2 linked regions of the Homo sapiens genome follow. The protein of the gene in region 2 interacts with the protein of the main gene of each other region in a pairwise test. Each region holds a gene or a part of one and is shown on either strand. Other genes may lie near its edges.

Region 1 (3,827 bases), on a different chromosome or scaffold from region 2:
CTAACAATAGCCTGGCTCTTACAAGTCCTTATAAGACATTTGAAGTGGTGTTTATTGTCCTGGTGGCTGGATCCCTCAGTTTGGTGACCATTATCGGGAACATCCTAGTCATGGTTTCCATTAAAGTCAACCGCCACCTCCAGACCGTCAACAATTACTTTTTATTCAGCTTGGCCTGTGCTGACCTTATCATAGGTGTTTTCTCCATGAACTTGTACACCCTCTACACTGTGATTGGTTACTGGCCTTTGGGACCTGTGGTGTGTGACCTTTGGCTAGCCCTGGACTATGTGGTCAGCAATGCCTCAGTTATGAATCTGCTCATCATCAGCTTTGACAGGTACTTCTGTGTCACAAAACCTCTGACCTACCCAGTCAAGCGGACCACAAAAATGGCAGGTATGATGATTGCAGCTGCCTGGGTCCTCTCTTTCATCCTCTGGGCTCCAGCCATTCTCTTCTGGCAGTTCATTGTAGGGGTGAGAACTGTGGAGGATGGGGAGTGCTACATTCAGTTTTTTTCCAATGCTGCTGTCACCTTTGGTACGGCTATTGCAGCCTTCTATTTGCCAGTGATCATCATGACTGTGCTATATTGGCACATATCCCGAGCCAGCAAGAGCAGGATAAAGAAGGACAAGAAGGAGCCTGTTGCCAACCAAGACCCCGTTTCTCCAAGTCTGGTACAAGGAAGGATAGTGAAGCCAAACAATAACAACATGCCCAGCAGTGACGATGGCCTGGAGCACAACAAAATCCAGAATGGCAAAGCCCCCAGGGATCCTGTGACTGAAAACTGTGTTCAGGGAGAGGAGAAGGAGAGCTCCAATGACTCCACCTCAGTCAGTGCTGTTGCCTCTAATATGAGAGATGATGAAATAACCCAGGATGAAAACACAGTTTCCACTTCCCTGGGCCATTCCAAAGATGAGAACTCTAAGCAAACATGCATCAGAATTGGCACCAAGACCCCAAAAAGTGACTCATGTACCCCAACTAATACCACCGTGGAGGTAGTGGGGTCTTCAGGTCAGAATGGAGATGAAAAGCAGAATATTGTAGCCCGCAAGATTGTGAAGATGACTAAGCAGCCTGCAAAAAAGAAGCCTCCTCCTTCCCGGGAAAAGAAAGTCACCAGGACAATCTTGGCTATTCTGTTGGCTTTCATCATCACTTGGGCCCCATACAATGTCATGGTGCTCATTAACACCTTTTGTGCACCTTGCATCCCCAACACTGTGTGGACAATTGGTTACTGGCTTTGTTACATCAACAGCACTATCAACCCTGCCTGCTATGCACTTTGCAATGCCACCTTCAAGAAGACCTTTAAACACCTTCTCATGTGTCATTATAAGAACATAGGCGCTACAAGGTAAAATATCTTTGAAAAAGATAGAAGGTGGGCAAGGGGAGCTTGAGAAGAATAAAAGGGATAAACGAGCTCCTAGTTTTAAAATCTCTGCCATTGCACTTTATAGTCTGATTACAAAACGTGCAATTCAGGAGCCCAGCAGTGACACACTTATCACGCCTAGGCTCCAGTTTGCAAAAATTGCACCTTATAAACTGTCAGTATTAGGAGCAATGAGACAATGAAAGAAACATGTTGGGATCGTGGATTTAAGAAACTATACACTGTTTCTCATAATCTCTTGAAGAAGGGCTTCTGATTCTACAATTTTATCAGTCTCTGCACAAGAGGAATAACCTTGTTCCTTTTTTGTTACTTTTGTTGTTGTTGTTCTCATGTGTCCTTAAGAGAAGGAAATGCCACAGTTACAAGGTAAACATGGAGACTTAAACATAAAGAAATAGGCACTATACAATGGGGACATAAAAAAAGAAAATCAAAGAAGGATGCAGAAATTGTCTCCGGAGTGTTAAGCATATTTTATTCTTTTGTTACGGTCCTATTTAGAGGATTGGAATGTAATAAATGCTTATTTTTTGCCTTTCTTTTTCCCACCATGAAGAGAAAGCAAACAAACAGAAACCCCAACTAGGTCACACCATTTTTCTTCTTGTTATGCCACTATTTTGTACATCCCTGTTCTATATTGTTTATAGGGAAAACCTACAGGACTTTCACTAAAGCTAGCCAGAGACAGCCATGAAAATGGACGTTTCACCCCTCCTCACTGTGTCCTTTGCATTCGTTGGGGATATCAAGGTCTATAAGGATTTAGTGCACTTATAATCCTATATGCGAAATGTTTAAACCAATCTGATTTTCTCCTAAATAGCCTTTTATATCAACAGAATATCCTACCTAAAACATAAACCTGTTTAAGAAACCATCGTCACTGTAAAGTTGAGGTTTCATCAAATTAAATAATGGACTATCTAGTTGGACCAAGTTTATTAAAGTCAGGTGAATTTTAAGATTAAAAAATAGAAGTTTAGGACTTTCTATTTCAACCTGAATTTGCCTGACCCATGTATGAAATGTTAACTTATAGAAAATGAACTCCTGACTTTCTCAGCAGAAAGGAATGCTGTTTTATTTATTTGGAATCCTAAACAGGATTAACATACTCACATAGCACCAGTGATTTCTGGGCCAGTCCCTAGAGAATAGAACCTTCTATCCAATGCCTGCTAAAGGATGATATTCAAATTATAACCAAGTGAGGATGTCTGCAATTATCCTATGACCCCATGAAAGGGGAAAAAACGATATTTTAAAAACTATTACTGAAACAATTACATATTCCATATTCCTCAAATTGTCAATTCTCCCTAACATTATTTAACTTCAAAATTCTCTTATCAATAGAATTATAGTAATCTTTGTGACAGAAATGTAGTGGCTAACTAAATAGAGGCCAAACGAGCTTACAGAATCTGACAGAAGGAGGTAGGTGGCTGTTGCCATGCCACATCTCACCATCTAATTCTAGACCATAATAATCATGTCAGGAACTATTATCTAAGTGGTGGCATTATATAGAATCTTGCCACGTAGAGATTTTTTATTTGGTCGTCTAAATAAATATAGGATTAGGATTATACGGATTCACATACAACTAGTTATTTTTATCCTTTATATTTTTCTTACAGTATTTGCTGTAGTTTTCCAATGAGATTTTCTAAAAATGGCTCAATCAATGGAAATCAAATTATAAACGCATTTGCAAATTTCATATTTTGGATTTTAGATTTATGATATCTTGTTCAGTAATAATAATGTTAGTTACATGGTAAATTTATCAATATTAGACCCCAGCACTTAAAAGAATTATTTTGTATGATTAGCCTCATAGATGCCACCTCAACATTTTGGAGAGTTAAGGAGGAAAAAAAGCATGAGGGAAAAAAAAAACCAAAAAACTTATAAGTTAGTAAGAAGCAAATTGCCAGCAGTATTTATATTTGACTTATCCTTCGTAAAAACAATTTCCTGTTTAAATAACTTCAGTCATTACCCCCCCAAAGTAATCTTCCATATTTAAAGCATTCATTTATAGAGATTCCCTTACCTACAGTTACTTCAACATGCACTTTTACATTTTAAATTCATATTTATTTTCATATTGTTTCTTCAAATGAAGGAATCAGTTGAACGGAAATAACGTCAAGCCAGTGGGCTCCTCGAGTTTCTGAAAACCAGAGAATTGACTAGCCAAGTATTTCCCTTTTTAATGTATTGTATTATTATTATGTAGATTTGGCTTCAGTTGGGAAGAACCCTTTGGCATCCAGGATTCAGGATTCAGGGTCTTTTTTTGTTTGCTCTAATAATCCAACGCACCATGAATCAAGCTTTTAGTCTCTGCTGCCATTGTATCCTTCCTTTTCCTCCCTCTGTTATTGATCCTTGCCAC
Region 2 (3,827 bases):
TCTGTACCTTGACTATGGGGGCAGTTACAGGAATCTACACTTGTAATTAAATGTCATAGAATCATTCATAAAGACACAGAAAAAAATAAGTGAATATAAAACTGGTGAAACTTCAGTAAGTCTAGTTAATAGTATTGTGTAGTTCATCAACTTCCTGGTTTTGATAATACTCTGTAGTTATGTAAGGTACCATCAATGGGTGATGGGTACATGGGCCTTCTCTGTACTATTTTTTTGCGACTTTTGAGTCTAAAATTATTTCAAAATAAAAAGCAAAAAAAAAAAAAAAAAAAAACCCCAACCAACCAACCGAAAAGGATAAAGATGAAAAAAAAGGCCATTACCTAAAATGTCTGCAATGACTCGACTGGTCTTCATACTAATTTATTCAGTTAAGTAAGAAGTAAACTGTCTTTACTTTCACTCCCACTCTTAAACTAGTTGAGACTGCTTTCTTAAATCCTAAAATAGTTAAAAGTTTACTTAAAAATTTATGTTTGTGATATTGTAAATCACTTTTGACCGATCTAATCCCTGCAAGTCTTGCAAGTATTAGGACTATTATCTACAATATTTGCATTAGTCTCCACAAATTAGTTCACAGTTGGGTTTCTGGGGTACCCAGCTATTGATCTGCTTAGCCTGTGGGATAGGGTAGAGTGGCACGCTGTTCAATGAGTACCATTTTTTACGTCTGCCATGACCAGAAAGAACTGGGGAAGAAACTGCTCTTATATTTATACTTAAATTTAGCTGGTATGGTATATAGAAAAAGATAAATTTATACCTTGAACAATTAACTCAAGATATATATTACCAGGAAGTTAGAGCCTATAACTTCCCTGAATGTCTGCTTCAATGCTCCCAAGTACAGTGAAGACAAAATGCCTCTAGGCCTCTCCACCCTCAGTCCTCCTTGGCTCCCATGCCTTCCTTTGTTCTTGTTGCCCTCCTCCTCTTGCTCCTTCTATCTCTTGAGCTAATCCAGTTCTGTCTGGACAGCAAAGGCCAGGTACTTTGCATCCAGCAGATATAGTTTCTTAATATGATTCATGTCACAATTAGTCTAAATTAATACATACCCAGGATAACAGCTCTTTGCTCCCTTAGACACTCATGTCTGTCACATAGGTCTGTTAAAAGTTTTTGATTAATTCTCCAGCCCTAGTAATTTTCTTACAAGCTAACTGGTATCATTGTCAAATTACCTTATCTGGTATCAATGTCAAATTACCTTATCAGCAGACATAAATACAGCACTGGTTTGCAAATACACAGGCAAGTTCTGCAGGTGTTAAACAGTCCCTAAGTCGCTAAGGCCTCTGAATTCCAAGACAAAAATATCTAGCAACCAGTCCTGTAAGAAAAACTTATCTTTGGGTTTGTTATTTTTCTCACTGGATAAACAACTTCTTCTAGAGGAAGAAAGTGCTTCTTCAATGACTCCCTAAAAGCTCTCACTATGCCAGATTGACATGCTGAAACAATGCCTAGCCAAGGTCCCAGGAGTAACAAAGAACATGTCCCCAAGTGAAGGTTAAAGTCTGAGGAGATAGCACTTTCTTTCCTCTTTGCTCATTCAGACTTGAGCCCTGCAGTGAGAACTGTTTCAGGCACCAGGACAAAGTATCTCTTTGAAGTACCTTTGGAAGCAGAATTTTCCAATGCCTGTCTCCACCAAAGCCTCAGGTGAAACAACAAAAAGTGGTTGTTAGTGTCATTGTTGTAGGAACTTTCTTGTTGTAGGAACTAAATAAGTCACTTTCTGGCAATCCAGAGTTTGCAACTGTAACATGTATAATATCTCTTCCTTTACAACTGTCCCACAGAACTCAAACTGCCTGCCATTCAAACAAACTCCTATTCGTTCTCAGCTACCACCAGACCCAGCTCACAGCCTATAGCCTCTCAGGGAATATTTGCACTTTAAGCTAAAAATTTAAGGGTTGTTATCCAACAACCCTCTAAATTAGGAATGTTTAGGCTGTATGCTTCTTAGAAAGAAGAAATCAACTAATAATAGCAGCCAACCTTTCTTGTATTTACTATGTGCAGGCACCATGCTAAGGGCTTAAAACAGATCTTATTTAATCCTCATAAGAACTCTCTGAGGTAGATACAATTATTACATTTTAAACATTGAATATACTTTCTCAAAATCACAGAGCTAGTAAGTGGACTAAGGTTAGTTGATACCATTAGGTAAGAACATACATAAGGGTTTGGAGTCAGGCAAATCAAGGTGGCTCCGTAATTTATGAGCTGTATGACTCTGAGCAGGTTCTCTGACTTCCCTGGGCCTCAGTTTTCTTACCTAATGCAGGGATAATATGAGATACCCATATGGTTACTATAAAAATTAAATGGAAAATTACATGTATAGCATTCAATTTACAGTAGATGCTTAACAAATGTATATTCTTTTCTCTTTCACTAGGCATTCCAGAGCTGAAGGATTATTAATTCTCAGGTTAGGGCAGTAGTGCTTCAGCTTAGACCTCACAGCATCTTCTGGTTAACAACAATTTTTTTTTGAAACTAAAGTTATCTTCTCTAGAAGAAAAAGCACTGAACTCATAGACCTATCTAGCAGTGATGACCTACAGACAAGAAGGGATGGCCAGAAAAGCATTAGGGCAAAGGAAAGAGGTTCTGTCCAAGAACGGGCACCAGGACCAGTTAGATCTGAAAAAGCCTAGGAAACTAGCTCAGATCAGTTGCCTGGCTTCTAATTTTTTGAAAAGCTATTGTTAATTCCCTGGTCACTGGCTCCTTGGCATACTTATCTATGGCTCTAAGAGTAAAGAAAATTAGCAACAGACTTTAGCTCCTAAGTAGTGAAAGGAGGAAATTTTACAGATACACATAGAATATTAAAAAGACATAAAATGAAAATTAAATATAAAATTAAAAATTAAAATCTGAATTTGATGGCTTAGCTGCAGCTAAAATAGAAGCAGAACCACACAATCACACAAAGCTCAAGTCTTTGTTTATATGAGATTATATGTATCTGAAAAAATTAAACTAAATTATGTACCATCATGTATAACTAATTTTTAACCACTGTAACAAGAGAACATTAGTAACTGCATTTCATTATAGTTAGCAATTGAAATATAGTTAAAGACGAAATCAAGTAGGAAGTCCAGCCTCTGGTCCTTTAAGAGAATACATTTAAAGACTCCCTAACAAATGAATAATAATTTACTTTTAATTTAATAAAAGTAATAGGTTCCTACTAAACAAAAACAAGAAAAAAGCACAAACTCAGATTCAGTTATTTTAAAAGTGAGAGAAAAATGTTTTAAAGTTGAACAACCACAAGATTTAAAATATATTTTTCTTACTTGAGCTTTAGCTCGGTTGTGATCCAAACGAGTCAAGCAACTGAAGTTCTCCTTGGGGATGGATGGAGCTGACTTGGAAGCAGTCAGGCAGTTGGTATTGGCTGGATTACCCACAACAATAACCTAGGAGGAATGGAAGGCACTGAAGAGTTACAGACTATATAGTTACTAACTAATCTATGTTAAAATTTGACTGAAAATGTCTAACAGGTAGCCTTTGTACAGGGGAGGCTTGGGAAACACCAAATACAATATAGCATAGGAAAATGCATTTTAAGTTATAAAAATCTTTTATAAAATGGTAATAAAAAATTTTGAAATAATATCAGATTTATAGAAAAGTTACAACCATATTACAGAGACTGACTCCCATATATCTTTTTTTTTTTTTTTTTTGGTACCTCTTTTGACAAGCTGTAGACAAGATACTTCATTGTCTCTAAGTAGTGCAGTGCTGGCAAATATTTCTCACGAACA

The links.
Region 1: the proteins of MDH1 (region 2) and CHRM2 interact in a two-hybrid assay, tested with the Homo sapiens proteins (one large-scale study listed by BioGRID and IntAct).

The regions. Positions count from the first base shown.
Region 1 is NC_000007.14:137,014,888-137,018,714, forward strand, and holds part of CHRM2 (muscarinic acetylcholine receptor M2), read left to right. Parts: coding exon 1-1,379; 3' UTR 1,380-3,827. UniProt on the Homo sapiens protein: The muscarinic acetylcholine receptor mediates various cellular responses, including inhibition of adenylate cyclase, breakdown of phosphoinositides and modulation of potassium channels through the action of G proteins.
Region 2 is NC_000002.12:63,598,816-63,602,642, reverse strand, and holds part of MDH1 (malate dehydrogenase, cytoplasmic), read right to left. Parts: intron 3,474-3,827; coding exon 3,351-3,473; intron 1-3,350. UniProt on the Homo sapiens protein: Catalyzes the reduction of aromatic alpha-keto acids in the presence of NADH. Plays essential roles in the malate-aspartate shuttle and the tricarboxylic acid cycle, important in mitochondrial NADH supply for oxidative phosphorylation.